Homo sapiens: one gene and its partners. The protein of the gene in region 1 interacts with the protein of each later gene in a biochemical or structural test. Each region holds a gene or a part of one and is shown on either strand. Other genes may lie near its edges. The genes, in order: PAFAH1B1, KATNB1 and NDE1.

Evidence for each region.
Region 2: the proteins of PAFAH1B1 (region 1) and KATNB1 form a complex in vitro, tested with the Homo sapiens proteins (one study listed by BioGRID).
Region 3: the proteins of PAFAH1B1 (region 1) and NDE1 form a complex in vitro, tested with the Homo sapiens proteins (one study listed by BioGRID).

The regions. Positions count from the first base shown.
Region 1 is NC_000017.11:2,596,616-2,603,724, reverse strand, and holds part of PAFAH1B1 (platelet-activating factor acetylhydrolase IB subunit beta), read right to left. Parts: intron 1-7,109. UniProt on the Homo sapiens protein: Regulatory subunit (beta subunit) of the cytosolic type I platelet-activating factor (PAF) acetylhydrolase (PAF-AH (I)), an enzyme that catalyzes the hydrolyze of the acetyl group at the sn-2 position of PAF and its analogs and participates in PAF inactivation.
Region 2 is NC_000016.10:57,738,770-57,745,878, reverse strand, and holds part of KATNB1 (katanin p80 WD40 repeat-containing subunit B1), read right to left. Parts: intron 4,193-7,109; coding exon 4,062-4,192; intron 1,486-4,061; coding exon 1,368-1,485; intron 1-1,367.
Region 3 is NC_000016.10:15,653,193-15,660,301, forward strand, and holds part of NDE1 (nuclear distribution protein nudE homolog 1), read left to right. Parts: intron 1-7,109. UniProt on the Homo sapiens protein: Required for centrosome duplication and formation and function of the mitotic spindle. Essential for the development of the cerebral cortex.

The DNA of each region.
Region 1 (7,109 bases):
CAAATTACCCAATGTCAATCAAGATTTTCCCCCTTCTTATGAAATTGAATAAAAACAAAAATGTGTGTGTGTATACATATATACATACTTTTTTTTTTCCTTGAGACAAAAGTTTTGCTCTTTTTGCCCAGGCTGGAGTACAGTGGTGCAATCTCAACTCACTGCAACTTCTGCCTCCTGGGTTCAAGCAATTCTCCTGCCTCAGCCTCCCAAGTAGCTGGGATTACAGGCATCTACCACCACGCTCAGCTAATTTTTTTATTTTTAGTAGAGACGGGGTTTCACCATGTTAGCCAGGCTGGTCTCGAACTCCTGACCTCAGGTGATCCACCTGCCTCGGCCTCCCCAAGTGCTGGGATTACAGGCGTGAGCCACCGCGCCTGGCCTGTATTTTGAAAAATACAAAAATTACCCAGGCATGGTGGCGCGGGCCTGTAGACCCAGCTACTCAGGAGGCTGAGGCAAGAAGACTGCTTGAGCCCAGGATTTGCAGAGTTGTAGTTAGCCACTGCACTCCAGCCTGGGCAACAGAGCCAGACCCTGTCTCAAAAAAAAAAATCATTCTTTTGTCAAAATGTATTCACTGCACTCTGTTCTGAGATACTACAAGTTGCTCTAGACAGAGAGGACAGCAGGAGTAGAATCACAAAGATCACAAAGTGGGGAGGGAGAAAGCATATATATATTAGAGTGTGAGCAAGGTGGGGCTTGATTAGAAATGAAACTTGAAGTGACTGAAGACCTAGCAAACTGTGTTAAAGTATGTGGACTATAGGAAAGAGGGAGTCAGCACAGTACGGTGGCTGAAAGCCCCAACTGTGGAGCCTCAGTACCTGAGGTTCAACTTTCAGCTCTGCTACTTACAAAGCTGTCACAAAGGGCTAGCTAAATTCTCCCAGAATGTTGTGAGGAGTAAACGAATACTTGTAAAGCACTTAAAACAGAGCCTGGCGTATTAGTAAGTGCTATGTAAATATTTGTTAAATAAATACAAAGGGAGCCAAGGGAGGGTTCTTTTTAAGTAGGGAAGTGTGATATGGTCAGATTGCATTTTAGATAGATGACTGGGGACTATGTAGCAGAAAGACGTTAACCGGACAAGACTGAATTTAGAGAGACGATGTGAAATTAGTTGGGTAAGAGATTATGTGAACTATGATGGTAGTAGTAGTAATGGTAAGTATGGATAGAAGGGGACTAACTCAACAAATATCGAGGAGGTAAAATTGGCAAGACAAGGTAATTGATTGGATATAGAGGAAGAAAGAAGAGTCAAGGTTGAGTCCCACGTAAAGTATTATTTCTAATGTTTTTAAAAGTAATATTCTTCTAAGAACTTTGGATCCTAGATGTCTTCTGTGCTAGTGACATTTGATGTCTTGGGGTTGTATTATGATGCTTCCATAAAAATGCGAACCACAGGCCTGTTTAAACTCTCAAATTGATAGGCCCTCGCTGTTTTGTTTTTTTTTTCAGTAGGTGGAGATAATTTCTCTTTAAGGACATACCATTATACAGAACACTTATTTAGCCCAAGTCGAAGAGCCAGAAAGCTTGAATAATGATTTTATTAAGTGGGGTTTTTTTTTATCTTTACGTTGGGATTTGTGATGATAAAGACTATAGCATCATGGTAATACTGTAAAAATTTTTAAGTGACTGCTGAACCATTAAAGACAAATTAAAATTTGTTAATTCTGTTATTTCCAATTTTTTCACTGTTCATTCATATATGATAAACTTTGATAACCAGAATATTTCATTACTTATTGATCCCTTTGACAAATCTTAGCTCATTTCTACATTTGTCAACTTTAAAAATATTTTTTCTTAGGCTGAGAGCAGTGGCTCATGCCTGTAATCCCAGCACATTGGGAGGTAAAGGTGAGCAGATGGCTTGAGGCAGTTTGCTTAGGCTAGGAGTTTGAGACTGGCCTGGGCAACATGGCAAGACCTCACCTCTTACAGAAAATAGAAAAATTAGGCCGGGCGCCGTGGTGCATGCCTGTAATCCCAGCACTTTGCGGGGCCGAGGCAGGAGGATCACCTGAGGTCAGGAGTTCAAGGCCTGCCTGACCAACATGGTGATACTCCATCTCTCCTAAAAATAGAAATATGAGCCAGGTATGCCGGCAGGCACCTGTAATCTCAGCTACTCGGGAGGCTGAGGCAGGAGAATTGCTTGAATCCAGGAGGCAGAGGTTGAAGTAAGCCAAGATCATGCCATTGCACTCCAGCCTGGGCAACAAGATTGGGAGACTCCATCTCAAAAAACAAAAATTAGCCAGGTGTGGCTGGGCACGGTGGCTCATGCCTGTACTCCTAGCACTTTGGGAGGCCAAGGTGGGCAGATCACGAGGTCAGGAGTTCGAGACCAGCCTGGCCAACAGAGACCCCCCATCTCTATTAAAAATACAAAAAACTTCACTGGGCAGGGTAACAGATGCCTGTAATCCCAGCTATTCAGAAGGCTGAGGCAGGAAAATCACTTGAACCCAAAAGGCGGAGGCTGCAGTGAGCCAAGATCGCAACACTGCACTCCAGCCTGGGCGACAAGAACGAGACTCAGTCTTGAAAAATAAATAAATAAATAATAAATAAATATTCATGTATGAGTTTAGTCAACAGCTTATTTCATTTTCTCTGACAATGCTAAATGTATAGCCTTTCCTCACCCATAAAAAGTTAACCAAGGCCAGGCATGATAGCTCATGCCTATAATCCTAGCACTTTCAGACACTGAAGTGGGTAGATCACCTGAGGTCAGGAGTTCGAGATCAGCCTGGCCAATATGGCGAAACCCCATCTCTACTAAAAATAAAAAATTAGCCAGGTGTGGTGGCACATGCCTGTAATTCCAGCTATTACTAGGGAGGCTAAAGCAGGAGAATCGCTTGAACCCAGGAGGCGGAGGTTGCAGTGAGCCGAGATCGCGCCACTGTACTACAGTCTGGGCAACACAGCGAGAGTCCGTCTCAAAAAGAAAAACTTAACCAAAATACTAAATAATCAAAACATCTGACTCATTTATCTCCATCTTCTTTCTTTTGTAGTTAGCATATTTTTTATAAAATAAAAATATGAAAAGAAATAGATAAAACACTAGTATATCATAGAACATATTCTTTCTTTTTTTGGTTTTTTTTTTTTTTTTTTGAGATAGTTTCACTCTTGTTGCCCAGGCTGGAGCGCAATGGCACGATCTCGGCTCACTGCAACCTCCGCCTCCCGGGTTCAAGCAATTCTCCTGTCTCAGCCTCCCAAGTAGCTGGGATTACAGGCACCCACCACCACACCTGGCTAATTTTTGTATTTTTAGTAGAGACAGGGTTTCACCACATTGGCCAGGCTGGTCTGGAACTCCTGATCACCTTCTGCCCGCCTTGGCCTCCCAAAGTCCTGGGATTACAGGCATGAACCACAGTGCCCAACCCATAAAACAAACTCTTCTATCTTTACCTTAGATTAAAAATGGATTGGGCTGGGTGTGGTGGCTCACACCTGTAATCCCAGCACTTTGGGAGGCCAACTCGGGTGGATCACTTGAGGCCAGGAGTTCTTTAGTAAAAATACAAAAATTAGCTGTCTGTGGTGGTATGTGCCTGTGGTCCCAGCTACTCGGGAGACTGAGGCAGAAGAATCGTTTGAACCCAGGAGGTGGAGGTTGCAGTGAGCTGAGATCGAGACACTGCACTCCAGCCTGGGTGATGGAGTGAGACTCTTACCTCAAAAAAAAAAAAAAAAAAAAAAAAAGGTTAAAAATGGATTAATCTGCACTGTAAAATTTTAATAAACATATAACTTTCTACAATGCTTTCAAAAATTAAATTTATTAAAATGTTCAAAGATTCTTAATTTTACTTTTGTAAAAAGTCTCAGAAAATTTTTTAATGGCCTCAGTTAACTGTCAATTCTTGTCAACATAAGAGCCCCAAAAGCAGATAATCAAAATGTATAGGTAATTTGTCCAGTTGAGTTAATTCACTTTTTATACTTAAGAATTCTGTCAAAGTGTAACCCTGTTCCCTCAGAGAATATAAAATCTCTGTATACGAAATGCAGCCACTCTTTCCTCCATCACCTTAATTCTCTTGAGATCACCGGAGTCAACTATTACAAAGATCTTTAGGATAGCACATTTCCTTTCACATAACCATTCAGTCAAATGCAACTAGTACTTATTCACTTATTAATACTATCTGTAAAGCAGTATTAGGCATTTTTTGGGAGAAGCTACTCAAATGCCAAAAGCCTTATGCATGCAAAGCAGTCAACAATACAAGACCATATGTTAATAAATGCCAATTTAAATGATGCAGGCAATAAATACCACCAACTTTCACCATTTAACAAAGATTAAGGAGTCCAATCGTTATAGAAAGAAGGAATGTGTGATTTTACAAAGCAGTACCCAAGAGTTCTGTGACTGCAATATTTACCTTATTCTAGTCACTAACCTAACATTCGACAGGAAAAGAAATTCTCTGGATTTCAGTTCTCTCATCCATAAAAATACCAATCTACCTCAAAAAGTAGCTGGCAGAAGAACAAATGAAAATCAGTACCAAGCTCAATATTTAGAAAGTTCTAGAGAAACGTTTATGACAATGTTAAAAGACAATAGAGAGTACCATTCCAGAAGTATCCTTGACAAATGCAGATTAGTCCTATCTAGGTAAGTTTCAACAAGAAGCCACCATCTTTTAAAAAGAAAACAAGAAATAAAATAATAAGTGCTTATGATGCCTGCCACCAATGAATATAAAGCATTTCATAAATATCAATTAAATTCTATGACTGCCATGCCAAGGTTAAAAATTACATATGTAACAGAAGTTAAACTAAGGTTCCATTTCAATGACTAGCCAAAAAGTGCCATGCCAAACCAGCAACAAAGAACAATCCAAAAAGCCTTCACTGCAGTTAACTATTACGCTTACATAATACAGCATCTTTCTTCATGAAATACAGATTTCTCAAAATGTTTGACCTTCAATGACGAGGATTCAATTTACAGCTAAGCATCTTCTGGAGAACGGTAGGTCTGTCTTTTTTTCAGAACTCGTATTGTATACCACTAGTTTTATTTTAAATAGAACAACTTTCTAAGTAAAAAAAAAAAAAAAGTAATAGTTGTACTGTAGATGACATAATAAAAACAGTGGCAAAGAATTTCCACTTCAAAACTTAACTATTTCCCTCTTTCCAAAGCACATAAAAATAAGTTACCTGTCATAATGAAATATTTTCGTTAACAGGGACTTAGAGGCAAGTAAAAAATATTTTAGGACCACAAGCAGAAATGGCCAGCTTGGTTTAAAACCAACCGAGCCTCAAGTCCCTTTGGCAAAAGAGCGCATGACTCACTGCTTTAGAACTCAATGGGAAGATATTGAAAATTCACTCTGCCCTAATATTTTGCTTTGGGTTTTTTAAGACATCTTCATCTTATTTTTATTTATTTATTTATTTTTTGAGATGGAGTTTCGCTCTTGTTGCCCAGGCTGGAGCGTAATGGTGCGATCTCGGCTCATTGCAACCTCCACCTCCCGGGTTCAAGCAATTCTCCTGCCTTAGTCTCCCCAGTAGCTGGAACTACAGGTGTGCGCCACCATGCCCGGCTAATTTTTTTGTATTTTTAGTAGAGACGGGGTTTCACCATGTTGGCCATGCTGGTCTTGAACTCCTGACCTCAGGTGATCCACCCGCCTCGGCCTCCCAAAGTTCTGGGAGTGTAAGTGTGAGCCACCATGTCTGGCCAGACATCTTCATCTTAATGTTGACAATTTCTATAGCATCCATGACTTATTCACAAAGATGACAAATTATGAATAACATGAACCACATGTAAACAAGAGGGTCTTATTTTTGCTGGATACTTAAAATATAAGCCATAAAGTCTCATATACGCAGACAGACAGACAGACACACACACACACACACTTTCTGTCTCTCTGTTACTTAGTATACAACTGAGAGAGAAACATTTATATTATTTTTAAAAAATAGAAAATAGGGAAGGGTGTGGTGGCTCACATCTGTAATTCCAGAACTTTGAGAGGCAGAGGCGGGCGGATCACGAGGTCAGGAGTTCCAGACCAACCTGACCAACATGGTGAAACTCCATCTCTACTAAAAATACAAAAATTAGCCAGGTGTAGTGGCAGGCACCTGTAATCCCAACTACTCAAGAGGCTGAGACAGGAGAATCGCTTGAACCCAGAAGGCAGAGGTTGCAGTGAGCTGAGATCACCCCACTGCACTCTAGCCTGGGCAACAGAGCAAGACTTCCCCTCAAAAAAAAAAAAAAAAAAAAAAAAAGACACGGATGTTCTAGCTAGAAAAGCATAAATTATGATTCTGACTTTTCCTTCCCAGAAACATCTCAAAATCTCTTTACACTAGAGATATTTTATCTGGAAAAACAGGTAACAAAAAATTGTACTAAAAAATTCCTTCCAATCTCATTAAGAGTTCTATACAGAACTATGAATAATTTTAAAAATTAATCTCCAAATTAAGCCTAAGATTCTCCAACATGTATCAAGAAACACTACATACACTTGGAACTAAAGCTCCTTAAGTCAAATTATCTTAAGCTCCTGATTAACAACAATCTACTGAAAAATCACCACTCAGTGTGTGGGGTTTTGTTTGTTTGTTTTTGACAGAGTCTTGCTCTGTCGCCCAGGCTGGAGTACAGTGGCACGATCTCGGCTCACTGCAACCTCCGCCTCCCGGGTTCAATCTATTCTCCTGTCTCAGCCTCCCCAGCAGCTGGGATTACAGGCGCATGGCACAAGACATGGCTAATTTTTTTGTATTTTTAGTAGAGACGGGGTTTCACCATATTGGTCAGTCTGGTCTCGAACTCCTGACCTCAGGTGATCCACCTGCCTCGGCCTCCCAAAGTGCTGAGATTACAGGCGTGAACCACTGCACCTGGACCTTAGTGTGCTTTGATATTCTACAAACAGTAGGAATAGGGATATGTCAGACACATAATACAGTGAATTATCATTCCCAACCTTACTCATTTCCTCACCATAATAACCCTTCTACTTTCTAATCATATTAAAAAGAACAAAAGTGTAAAAATACATCATACA
Region 2 (7,109 bases), on another chromosome or scaffold:
AGGAGGAGCTTTACTCTTCTGGCAGAGAATTTGGGGATGAATGAGTAATATGGACATAGAAAACACACAGATTAAAAAAAAAAAGGAACTATTATTAACTCCAGGGAAACCAAGTTATTAAAAAGAAATAGTCAGTGGTAAATGACACTTATGCGTCCTTACATTATAAACACCACCTATTGAAATGGTGCTACTGGGAGGGTGGGAGGAGAAACACGAGCCATGGGGCTGGGAGTGGTGCCATGAGAGAGCTAAATTCTCATCCTTTACAGTAGGAAGAGAATAACTAATGTGTTAACTTTTTTTTTTTTTTTTGAGATGGAGTTTCGCTCTTGTTGCCCAGGCTATAGTGCAATGGTGCGATCTTGGCTCACCACAACCCCCACCTCCCGGGTTCAGGTGATTCTCCTGCCTCAGCCTCCCAAGTAGCTGGGATTACAGACATGTGCCACCACACCCGGCTAATTTTGTATTTTTAGTAGAGATGGGGTTTCTCCACGTTGGTCAGGCTGGTCTCGAACTCCCAACCTCAGGATGGGGTTTCTCCACGTTGGTCAGGCTGGTCTCGAACTCCCAACCTCAGGTGATCCGCCTGCCTTGGCCTCCCAAAGTGCTGGGATTATAGGCGTGAGCCACTGCGCCTGGCCACGGTGTTTTTTAAATAAGAAAAGAAAGAAACTGTGGTATGACCATGTGGTCTAGAAAGGTGGAGGCGATCAGCAAAGCACAGACGAAAGCACAGAAAGTTTAGGCTCATGGAGAATGGGAAGGAGTGGGGCAGAAGTTTCCTCTTTCCATTGAAATTAATTGTAGAAATACTGGTATTTGAGGTTTTAAATTTTAGGCTATGTACAACTTCTATACAGATGAAAACTAAATTAAAACAGAGCACAAGGAAACAGATCTGGCCATTCCAGGCTGCCTCTAATGGCACCAGGGAGCCAAGGCAGAGTGGGGACCACCTGGAGTCAGGGTACAAGCTCCCCGGTTCTTCATGGCTGTCCCACGCAGCCACCTCACTCATTCATGTGACCTGCAGGGCCCCTGGCGGCATGTGACATCCCTCTAGGTTCTAAACACACACACACACACACACACACACGTGCCCGCAGACACACACATCCAAACACACATACATCCAAACACACACACACACACACCCGCACATCCCCCCACCCACACGAGGCAGCAGTGCATGTCAATGCCAGGCTAATGGGGGTGGAGTGGGTGCCACACTGCCGGGTTAGTGCTCCAGGAGCAAAGCAGCCAACGTAGTCCAGGCAGGCTTCCTGGAGGAAGCAGTACAACTGCAGAGCCTGAAGACTAAGGCAGGTGTGCGTGCACAGGAGGCAAGCTCGGAGGCCTACTTTTGGCAGCTTCCAGGTCCCAGACACGGATGGAGCCCGACTGAGAGCCGGCCACGATGAGCTCCTCGGGGGTGTTGAGGCGGACGCTCTCCACTGGGGATGTGTGGCCCGTCAGGCTCTGTGGAGAGAGAGCAGCAGCTTCCGTGCACTGCTGGACAGACCCCTGCAGTTGCGCCCTGAATTCCAAGTCCCCCGGAAAGGCTTCAGCAAGAAATGGCTAAGGCAGGAGGGGGAGCCCCATGGGGGCCACAGCCTAGCCCTCCTGCAGGCCCTTTCTGAGCACCTACTCCTCTCGGCCTCAGCTCCCAGGGCTAAGAGTGGCCAAACCCCAATCATCCCCCCACCACCTCCCTCTTCCCTGCTGTGCTTCTGACATGGGCGTCACCTGCAGAAATGGCCCTGGGCCCCTTGGAGGGGAGCGACTGGACAAGATAAAGGGATGCTGTCCCTTCAGCCCTAAGTTAAGCAACCCTGCCCCCGCTCTGTTCCCATCTTCACTCTGCCCCAGGCAAGCCCCTCAGCGAGGTAAGCCACAGCGGAACCAAGGCCTGCCTAGTCCTGGGCACACATCTCGCCCCTCTAGAACCCCTGGCTCTCCCTGACTGCCCATCCCCGTGGAAAGGAGAGGGCTGTGGCGGTTGGAGGAGGGTGGAAGACTTTTCACTGTGGATCCTCTATCTTTTGGATGTTGAACAGAATAAGTGTATCCCATACTCAAAAATAAAAATAAATCCAAGTGGACGGCCTGCAGGGGGACAGCGTGCACAGAAACCCCAAGGGGAGAGAGACCCCGGCAGGCTGGAGGCACTGCGAGGCCTGGGAGGCTGGTGTGTGTGAGCCAGGGCAGGGGCCCGGGGTGAGGCCGGCTGGGGCCTGACAGCTGCACCTGGCGTTCTAAAACAAGCCTGCAGGCCAGGCCCCAGACGGTTGGCCCCGTTTCTCTGGGGGTCGTGGCATGTCCTATTTTTGGTCAGTCATTGGTGATGCTTTTTCAACTTGTGTATGCTACTACTTTGGCATTTCATGGGGGTAGAAAACACATTTGAATCCTAGAAACAAAGTAAAACAAAACAATTCAATTCATCATTACTGACCCCTGGCACCCTTGCTGAGGCTGGGGTGGATCTCAGTTCTCCCCCTGGATCTCAGAAAAACACTGAGGTGATTAAGTTTCTACTAAGAAATTCATCCTTTGCCATATTCTTTTTCTTTTTCTTTTGAGATGGAATCTTGCTCTATCACCCAGCCTGGAGTGCAGTGGCACCATCTCGGCTTACTGCAACCTCCGTCTCCCAGGTTCAAGCGATTCTCCTGCCTCAGCCTCCTGAGTAGCTGGGACTACAGGTGCCTGCCACCACGCCCGGCTAATTTTTGTGTTTTTAGTAGAGACAGGATTTCACCATGTTGGCCAGGGCGGTCTCAAACTCCTGACTTCAGGTGATCCACCCGCCTCAGCTTCCCAAAGTGCTGGGATTACAGGCGTGAGCCACTGTGCCCGGCCTATTCCTCTTCATCTTTATTTCACCAAGAGTCACAACAATGATACTCCCTGGTTGGCAAGGGATGGGGGTTGGGGCAGGGAGGAAAGGGCAGGTTCCGATGCTGCTGGTGAGAATGTAAAATGATTTCTGGGGGGCAATTTGGCAATCTGTTTTGAAAGCTTTAACAAAAGCACACACCCTTGGATTGAATGCAGTGATCACGGATCTGCTCAAGGATCTAGGTGGCTGAGGATGTTCACCACAGGGTGCTTTAGCAGAGCCAAAAAAAGCCGGAAACAACCTCTCTGCTGATAACAGGGTGTGGCTAAGCTAATTACGGCTCATCCCTACAATGGAACACCATTAAGCCATTCAAAATTATGTTGTAAAAGAATACTTGTTGACACAGGCAAATCCTTACAACATTGTTATTTTTAAAAACCAGGCTGCACAAGAGTGGCAGTGTATTTTTATTTATGTGTGTGTGCTTGTATGAGTATTTGTGTGTATACATGTGTACATGCATGTACAAGTGTGCACTTACGTGCATGTACACGTATATGTATCTGTCTCAGCATCTAGAAGGACTCACACCAAAACACCAACTGTGGTGGCCTTTGGATAACGGAACTATATGTAGTTAATTTTGTGTTTTCTCCTTTATGCACTCCTATTTGGAAAACAGTTTCCAGCATTGAACATATAGCTGCATAAATAGTGGGGAGATGCTATTTAAGAACTAGCTCCCTAACCAGCTCCAGCCAGGTCCCCTCAAATCCTCATTGGGGAATGAAGGCTGGGAATGAATTAAAATAAACGCCCACATGTTGCTGCCAGGCAGGCAGATGGGCAGGTGGGAGGGGAGGGGTACAAGTCTTTTGGCTCAACCACAGGCCCAGGGCTTATTTTAATCTTCTCACGCAGCCTGCCTGGAGTTCTTAATAGTACCACAGGCAGGTGACTCCCTCGCTCCTGAGGGCTGGCCACTGTCCCAGCCATGCTGGGCTGTCCTGGGCCTCACTGAGCAGACAGCTGGGGGAAGCACTGATGGTGTCCCCACCACGCCCCCTCCACCCCTGAGCTGGGCCCCAGCGGATAGGGGGCCCTGGGCTCAAGAGAGTCTGAGAAGCTGCTCACTCTTCAGCCTCCAACCCCTGTCCCCGTCCCCTCCCCAGGCCCTTGTCCTGACCCCCCGCCAGCTGTCGGGGCTCACCATGATGCAGTTGGGCTTGTTGATGGACCACAGGTTGACGCGGCAGTCATCCCCGCCTGTAGCCAGCAGCCGCCCGGAGGCTTTGCCCAGCACCAGTGAGGACACGTTGCTGGCATGCGCGACGATCTCTTCTACACAGGGAAGGAGAGGGAGAGGCCATCAGGGCGGCCCGATGGGGCCTTGTGAAGGAGGGGTGACCCTGCTCGGCTACCCGCTTTGGAACCTGAAGCCCAGTGGAAGGATCTGCCTCCTTCAGCTCCCCCTTTGGTGTCCACCATGAGCTGCAGGACCAGCAGACAGGGCAGGGCATGGGCCTGAGACGGAAATCACTGTTTCTCAACTTTCATCATGCCTGTCTTTCCTACCTTTAGACTTCACGATTTTCTTCCTGTTTCTGCATATCACCTGGTAATATTGACTAGTTATACGCAATTTTTAAAATTGACTTGCTATTTTTATTAGCTTGGGCTTAAGCAATGTCCATGAAATTACAAGTTTGATATACTCATGATACTCTTTCTATGATACAAAAAGAAAAACAATTATTGAAATAAAAAAAATTGACCCATGCACTGCCTACACACCTCTCAGCTGCTGCTTGTGTGTACATACAAACCCTGCTTTGGAGAACACACTTTAAGAACAACCGAAGTCACCTCTAGACAAGCTGCCCCCAGGTAAGCCTGCACAGGGCTTCGGCTCAGATTCACAATCACGGATCAGGTTCTGGTCTGAGGTCTGTGATCTGCTATTGCGTGGCCTTGGCTACTAGGTCACTTGTCCTCTGAGGGCCTGGCTCCTCGTCTGGAAAGTGGGGATGCCCGTGGTGTCTGCTCACACCTGATGCTGAGGACTCCCTCAGAGCGCGCCTACGTGCTGCTTAGTAGCAGGCGAGGGCTCCGTGACATTGGGCAGGCTCGGGGCTAGTCACCATGAGAGAGTGGGCATGGGGGCCTGGGCGGGCACCAGAGGGTGGGCTTCATGAGGAGGGGGCAGGAGGCAACAGACTGAGCAGCTGGGGTGGGGGTGAGGGCTGACCACACAGAGGAGGAGCCTGTGCAGACAGCCCAAGGCCCTGGCCTGGTCCGTGGAGATGGCAGACAGGAGCCTCGGAGGACTCCGCAGGGAGCAAAGCACAGGCAGGGAACCAAGAGGCGGCCCGGGCCTCAGAACCCATCCCTGCATGAGCTCCTCCTGGAAAGAAGGGAGAAAAAAGACAGTTCTCCCCACACAGGCCAGGGGAAAACCCCAAGGTGCTGACGCCCCGAGGCACCCGGAAGGCCAGCGTGGGTGACGCCAAGGAAAAGGGTGTTGGAGCCACGGCGCTCCACAGAGGCCCCTCCTGCACCCCAGCTCCGACTCCACCCTGCCTGGGTGTCTCTGCTGCGGGCTTCAGACCACAAGGAGGTTGGGAAACTGGGCCCAGGGAAGCTGCTTGCCAGAAACCTGGGCTCCAAGGGGCCACCAGGAATACCCAGGGGACAAGTCGCAGGCTGAATCTCACTGATGACACCCTGCCTCCTGGGCCGGTCGGGGCAGAGCCAGCACAGGCAGCAGCGCCAGCAAGGGCGAGGGTTCCCTGTGGGCCCAAACCTGGGCCAGGGCGCTGGGAGTTCGCCATGGGGATCCCAGGGAGCTGGGCCCCACTTTAGTCCCGTCTCGATGAGAGCCTTCTGTCCTCTGGACACTGTCGGGACAGAAACCTGAGGAATTCCAGCCACAGACGTGTCTGTTCAAGGTTTCCACCTGACCCAGAAAGAGGGCAAAGCACCTTCTCCCTGGCATTCCGTGCCCGAGCCTGGTGTCCTCTCCGTGGAGGCACTGCTCGCTCCCCCTGGCCTACCTGGAGGGCTCTGTCTGTCCCCTGGCCCTCACTCCTCCCAGGGAAAGTGTCTGGCTGGGCCCCACCTCACTGGGCCTCAGGACTGCTGCCCCTGGAGTCAGGGGCATTCATTCATAATATCAGTATTTCCTGGGTGCCTGTTCTAGGCCTTGCACGAAATATGCCCCAGTATAATCAGATGGTGGTGGGGGCGGGACACTGAGCTGGCAAAACCGCAGACTTTGGAGTGAGAAAGATTTAGAAGTTGGGCCCTTCTGGAGGAGCCCACATCACTCCCCTCTAAGCAGCCTGACCAGGGACTGACTGGAGCCCACAGAGGGAGGGCAGAGGGGCAGGGACACAGCACAGGCACCTGCAAAGGAGGCACGGGGCACCACCCCAAGAGCTCCTCCTTCATCCTGGCTTGTTGGACAGCAACCAACAGCCCAGGCCGAATACTTGATTTTCATACCAAAAATAAAAAATAAAAATCCTCAGTGTCTACTGGCAGGCCAAGCTCTGGGAGTACAACCTGGGCCCCACATCCAGCCAAAGCTGGGGAACATGGTGCGGCGTGGCCAGAGGGGCTGAGGATCAGCATCCCAAATGCAAGATACAAAGTACTAGGTTTCAACGACCTCATGTGGGCCACGCACCTCTGATCCTCACCAGACCCTGGAGCCACAAGGAGCCAGAGGTCACGTGGCCCTGGGCTCTTCAGAGTTGATTCCCACGGACACCACCGTGCACATGAAATCAGCAGCAGCAGCAGATGCCCAATACGCCTGATCTCATTACCTCCTGCTCGCACACACTGATGGCTTGGCCTTGCCTTTATGATAAAGCACGGCAGCCTCAGGAGGGCTGGGGTCCTGAGAACTCAGTAGGTCCGTGCGGCCCCACATTCCTCCTGCTGCTGTGCCACTGCCCATGGCCTCCCTTGAGTCCTTCCAATACACTGAGCCTCCTGCCTCAGGGCCTTTGCACTTGCTGTTCATGCAGCCTGCAGCATTCCCACCCCACCCCTACCCCTACCCCCCAGCTAACTGATTCAAAGCACAGGCACCAGCTTGCAACTAGAGGAGACACAGAGGGATACGGTTATCCAGTTCCTGCCTGTTGCTCTCCCCAGGCTCTGAGCTCCCGCTGTACAGAGACCTTGACTACTTTGTCCCCCAGTGGCTCCCCAGTGCCTAGCTCTGGGGAAAGGCCAGCTGTCGAAGGGA
Region 3 (7,109 bases), on another chromosome or scaffold:
AACAACTGCATCGTTTTCCATTCAGTCCTCTGTTGACATTGAGGTTTCCAGTTTTCCACATTCGTGAATGATGGTGTGCATCTTTGAACATGGGTCCTTGCCTGCCTAAGTATTTTTGTAGGTTGATCATTGTAAACTTGGAAAGCACAAAGACAGAAGCCAGGCTTGCTGACTCTTGACTGATGTTGCCCCAGTGATGTCACTCCTGCAAAATGCAAAGCCTGCGTCCTGGCTGTCGGAGCATGTGTGGACATTTGGCAGCTTCTTTCTCTTCCCTCCTGCTCTTCTGTTTGTTTTGATTGGGAAGGATATGGAGTGGGGATGGAGAAGGGTGTTGAGTAATTATCGATGGTTTCTGTATGTTTATTGCTCCTGACTAGCAGTGCTGGGTTTCTTCTCTCAGAGGAAAGCTGAAAGAGATTGCTTTGCTTTTTTCCAGAGTTTTAAAATCAGAGGTGTGTGTCTCGAGTGTATTTTCAGACTTTTTTGTTAGCTTTAATCATGTAAAACATGCAAAAAAAAAAAAAGCATGTGGAAACAATTTTTTTTTTTTGAGACGGGTTCTCGCTCTGTCACACAGGCTGGAGTGCTGTGGGGCGATCTCGGCTCACTGCAACCACCGCCTCCCATGCTCAAGTGATCCTCCCACCTCAGCCTCCTGAGTAGCTGGGACCACAGGTGTGCATCACCACACCTGGCTAATTTTTTTGTGTTTTTGGTAGAGATGGGGTTTCACCATGTTGCCCAGGCTGGTCTCTTATCTGCTGACCTCAGGTGATCTGCCTGCCTCACCCTCCCAAAGTGCTGGGATTACAGGCATGAGCCACCACACCCGGCCGGAAACAAATTTTTGAAGGAGGCATAGATCTCTGTTGTGCAAAATAGATACTTTTTGTACCACTGGGTCCTAGTTTGTCATTGTTCCTTGCATGATCCCATCAGATTTGTCTACAGAGCTGCTGGGGCATGATGGTGTGGTGGCGTATTAAGAACGCAGGTTAGTGGCACACAGATGAAATAAATGCATGTGGGGTGCATTTTTAAGATAGCAGGTGCAAAGTTGTATATACTGAGACCAGGCATTAACACTTGCCTATTACAGTGCCTTTTAAAACACTATGTGAGGGCCGGGTGCAATGGCTCACACCTGTAATCCCAGCACTTTGGGAGGCCTAGGTGGGCAGATCACCTGAGGTCAGGAGATCGAGACCAGCCTGGCCAACGTGGCGAAACCCCGTCTCTCCTAAAAATACAAAAAATTAGCCAGTCGTGGTGGCATGCACCTGTAATCCGAGGTACTAGGGACGCTGAGGTAGGAGAATCGCTTGAAGCTGCGAGGCAGAGGTTGCAGTGAGCTGAGATCACACCACTGCACTCCAGCCTGGGCAACAGAGAAAGAGATTCCGACTCAAAAAAAAAAAAAACAAAAAAAAAAAAAACAAAACTGGACCAAATGAAACAAGTGAATCTGATCTGCAGTCAGTCAGTTTGCAACCCCTGGGAAGCCTTGGACTTGAATGCAAAGATCCCTTGAACTTGGATCTAGTTTGCCTCTGCTGCTCACATGCACATTTAGAGATGGCCAAGGCATACGGTGTTTCTGCTTCCAAGAAACAGAGTGGTTGTCCTGTTTAGCCATCTCTTACAGTCACACAGCTTAAAGAAGATAATGTTTGCAAACAATTTTTGAAATGTCTAGCACACAGCAAACAGAAGGTCAAATTCAGTACTTAATGCTGATAAAATAAGAGAACCCTTGCAAGTCATGTTGCCTGCTTTCTGCCACAGAGAGTACTGCAATAGAACTTTCTGACGTTTTCATGTTGTTTATTTATTTATTTTTTGAGACAGAGTCTTGCTCTTGTGCCCAGGCTGGAGTGCAGTGGTACAATTTCTGCTCACTGCAACCTCTGCCTCTGGGTTCAAGCAATTCTTGGGCCTCAGCCACCCAAGTAGCTGGAATTATAGGTGCGCTCTACCACACCTGGCTAATTTTTGTGTTTCTAGTAGAGACAGGGTTTCACCATGTTGCCCAGGCTGGTCTTGAACCCCTGGGCTCAAGCAATCCACCCACCTCAGCCTCCCAAAGTGCTGGGACTACAGGCGTGCATCGTGACGCCCTGCTGATTTGTGTATTTTTAGTAGAGACGGGGTTCACCTTGTGCTGGTCTCAAACTCCTGGGCTCAAGCAATCTGCCCACCTCAGTCTGCCAAAGTGCTGGGATTACAGGCGTGAGCCATCGTGCCCGGCCTCTCTCTGACATTTTTGAATGGCAAAGGCAAAAATCTTATACTTTTAAGGATGTGGAGAAATAGGAACACTTTTACACTGTTGGTGGGACTGTAAACTAGTTCAACCATTGTAGAAGTCAGTGTGGTGATTCCTCAGGGATCTAGAACTGGAAATACCATTTGACCCAGCCATCGCATTACTGGGTATATACCCAAAGGACTATAAATCATGCTTCTATAAAGACACATGCACACGTATGTTTATTGCGGCATTATTCACAATAGCAAAGACTTGGAACCAACCCAAATGTCCAGCAATGATAGACTGGATTAAGAAAACGTGGCACATATACACCATGGAATACTATGCAGCCATAAAAAATGATGAGTTCATGTCCTTTGTAGGGACATGGATGAAATTGGAAATCATCATTCTCAGTAAACTATTGCAAGAACAAAAAACCAAACACCGCATATTCTCACTCATAGGTGGGAATTGAACAACGAGAACACATGGACACAGGAAGGGGAACATCACACTCTGGGGACTGTTGTGGGGTGGGGGGAGGGGGGAGGGATAGCATTGGGAGATATACCTAATGCTAGATGACGAGTTAGTGGGTGCAGCACACCAGCATGGCACATGTATACATATGTAACTAACCTGCACATTGTGCACATGTACCCTAAAACTTAAAGTATAATAATAATAAAGAAAAAGAAAAAAAAAGATTGCTGTTTTATGATAAAGTGAAGTGCAGCTGTTACTTCTTCCTTCTTTGCTTCCAGCATCTCTCTTCCCTAAGGATTGCTTTTAAAATGTAAGAGTTTTTGGTTGAAATGCTGTTCCTGTGGTTTTTGTCTCTTGGTTGGAGTGAAAGATTTTGCAGGCTGTGATACAAATCCAGTTCTCTGCTTATTTTCTCCTCAGTCCTTGAAATCCAAAACCAGATCCCTCCCATTGGCCCGTTGTAATTAGAACCTGCCCCACAATAGACGCACCTCCTAAAGCATCTCAGATTCATTTCTTTCCTGAGGATTAAGTTTTTAAACCTTCCTGGCCAAGATAACAGTGTTTTAAGAGGCTCTTTTCTTTTATTATTATTATTATTATTATTACTCTTTTCTTTTTTTGAGATGGAGTCTTGCTCTGTCACCCAGGCTGGAGTGCAGTGGCAGGATCTCTGCTCACTGGAACCTCCACCTCCCGGGTTCAAGAGTTTCTTCTGTTTCAGCCTCCTGAGTAGATGGGATTACAGGCATGTGCCACCATGCCCAGCTAATTTTTGTATTTTTAGCAGAGATGGGGTTTTACCATGTTGGCCAGGCTGGTCTCGAACTCCTGGCTTCAAGTGATCTACCCGCTGTGGCCTCCCAAAGTATCAGGATTACAGGCATGAGCCACAGCACCCTGCCAGGCTTGGGTGTTCAAGGAAGAGAAAGAAGGCAGTGTGGCTGGGACATAAGTGAATGAGAGGTGGTAGGGTAAGAAATGTGTAGAAAACTATGCAGGGGCCTGATCACATTGGATCTTGCACATCTTTTTCCAAACCTCAGGAGGAGTCATTCTGCTTTTGTTGTTACTGGTTCCTCACTTCCGCACTTTATTGTATGCTGACAACCTTCCATACCATGGGACTGAGACTGCCCTCAATAGTATCACCAATGTCTTTTTTTGTTTTTTTTTTTTGAGGCAGAGTTTCACTCTTGTCGTCCAGGTTGGAGTGCAATGGCGTGATCTTGGCTCACTGCAACCTCCGCCTCCTGGGTTCAAGCGATTTTCCTGCCTCAGTCTTCCGAGTAGCTGGGGTTACAGGAGCCTGCCACCACACCTGGCTAATTTCTTGTATTTTTAGTGGAAATGGAGTTTCACCATGTTGGCCAGGCTGGTCTTGAACTCCTGACCTCAGGTGAACCACCCGCCTTGGCTTCCCAAAGTGTTGGGATTACAGGCATGAGCCAACGCACCCAGCCACCAATATCTTAATGGCCACACAGTGCTCATTGATAGATGCCTTGGCCCTGGGCTATTGTTGCTATAGAATTGGTTTGATGAGTACATATTACATGAGATCTGGGCTCATTAGAGCTTATGGCTTGAGCAGGGACTCCTTGGCCTAGGTTTATGCTGCTCCTGGCCTTGTTAATGACTGCTATTAACACTCTACCCCCTTTTTATTTTTTTGAGATGGGGTCTTGTTCTGTCGCCCAGGCTGGGAGGCTGGAATGCAGTGATCTTGGCTCACTGCAGCCTCCGCTTCTCAGGCTTAAGTGATTTTTCCTGCTTCATCCTTCTGAGTAGCTGGGACTACAGGCACGCACCGCCGTGCCCGTTTGATTTTTGTTTTTGTTTTTTTAGTAGACACGGGGTTTCACCATGTTGCCCAGGCTGGTCTCAAACTCCTGACCTCAAGTGATCTGTCTGCCTCGGCCTCACAAAGGGCTGGGATTACAGGCATGAGCCATTGCGCCAGGCACCACTCTACCCTTTTGACTTTGAGCAAGTAAGGTCGTTGATTCCATACATTCATTAAGATTCCTGCGTGGCAGAAATCTAACCCCAACTGGTATAACCAAGACAAGGAATTGATTATCTCATAACCTTAAATCAGGTGTGGCTGCATCTAGGTGTTCAAATGATATTGTCAGGACCCAGGCTCTCCATCCCTTGGCCCAGCTTTCCTCTGTTTTGGCTTCACTCTGAGGCAGGCTCTCCCTTGTGATAGCAAGATGACCACCGGCAGTTTCAGGCTTACCTCCGGCTTCAGGCTTACCTCCAGCTTCAGGCTTACCTTACCAACCCTAGTGGAAAGAGAGTTTCATTTTTGACAGCTATGCAAAAGGTCTGGACCTGGGCCCTCACTGGCTTAGTATGGGTTAGGCCCATCCTTAAGCCAATCATTGGCTCAGCATGGGTTAGATCCGTGACTGTCACTGGCTGAGCATGGGGGTTAGGCTCACCCTATCATTGGCTCTGCGTGAATTAGGCCCACCTCTGTCACTGGCTCATCGTGGGTTAGGCCCACCCATGAGCTGATCACTAAGGTCGTGAATAGGCATATGCCTCTTCCCAGGTGTGGAGGATGATGTCAGATCCCTCTGAACTCATGAAATGAGTAGGGTATTCTCCCAAGGGAATATTGTGCTGTCACAGAAGATGGAAAAATGAATGCATGTCTGGAAAAAACAAGCAAAACTACAAATCATTAGCTTTATATGACATTTATTTATTTTTTGTTTATATGTTTTTGAAATGGAGTCTTGCTCTGTTGCCCAGGCTGGAGTGCAGTGGTGTGATCGTGGTTCACTGCAACCTCTGGCTCCCGGGTTCAAGCGATTCTCATGCCTTAGCCTCCCGAGTAGTTGGGATCATAGGTGCCTGCCACCACACCCAGCTAATTTTTGTGCTTTTAGTGTAGACAGGATTTTACCATGTTGGCCAAGCTTGTCTTGAACTCTTGACCTCAAGTCATCTGCCTGCCTCAGCTTCCCAAAGTGTTGAGATTACAGGCATGAGCCACCACGTCTGGCCAGCTTTGTATGACATTTCGCCTTTCTGCCTTGATCAAACTTTCAGAGAATCTGCTTTCCAGAGGGATGAGTGGGTCGGGAAATAGCATGTTTTCTCTGAATGAGGGAAAGGATTGAAAAAGTAGGAGGGAGAAAGGATGTGAATATGAGTCCCAACAAATGCAGAGTTATCGGTAAGTTTTGTGCTTGAATCTAGGTACAATTGTGCATTTCCTGGTTCTGCATGAATTAGGCCCACCTCTGTCATTGGCTCAACATGGGTGAGGCTCACTAACTTCCACCAGAAGTTAGTGGTGGTGTCTGTGTTGACACTTACATGTTTAGCCTAATGATTTCATGTTTTAACCAAAACTATATAGCTTGTTGGTTATATCTTAGAAAGTGATGGTTTTTGCTCATTCTTTTGTCCCCAGGGATACACACCAGCCTCTAAGTTCTCTTGAGGGAAGGAAGGGACCTTGCACACAATCTTTTTTTTTTTTTTTTTTTTTTTTTTTTTGAGAGGAAGTCTCACTCTGTCACCCAGGCTGGAGTGCAGTGGTGCGATCTCGGCTCACTACAACCTCTGCCTTCTGGGTTCAAGTGATTCTCCCGCCTCAGCCTCCCGAGTAGTGGGGATTACAGGCGCACACCACCATGCCCGGCTAATTTTTATATTTTTAGTAGAGATGGGGTTTCAGTGTGTTGGCCAGGCTGGTTTCAGACTCCTGAGCTCAGGTGATTCACCTGCCCTGGCCTCCCAAAGTACTGGGATTACAGGTGTGAGCCACTGCGCCCGGCCTTGGACACAATCTTTTTTTTTTTTTTTTTTGAGACGGAGTCTCGCTCTGTCACTCAGGCTGGAGTGCAGTGGCACGATCTCAGCTCATTGCAACCTCCACCTCCTGGGTTCAAGCAATTCTCCTGCCTTAGCCGCCTGAGTAGCTGGGACTACAGGTACCTGCCACTGCGCCCGCCTAATTTTTGTATTTTTAGTAGAGATGGGGTTTCACCATATTGGCCAGGCTGGTCTCAAACTCCTGACCTTGTGATCTGCCCGCCTCGGCCTCCCAAAGTGCTGGGATTACAGATGCGAGCCACTGAGTCTGGCCTGGACACAATCTTACTTGGATTCCTCATGCCCTTTTGACAAGCTCAGAGCCTCAAATAAATTCAGAAAATAGGTGATTACATCAAACAGCCTCTATCAACAGGGAGTATACAAACCGTTAGCCCAACTGTTAATAGAAGTCTGCTTTCTTGCTGGGTGTGGTGGCTCACACCTAGAATCCTAGTGCTTTGGGAGTACAAGGCAGGAGGATCGCTTGAGCCCAGGAATTTGAGACCAGCCTAGGCAACATAGTAAG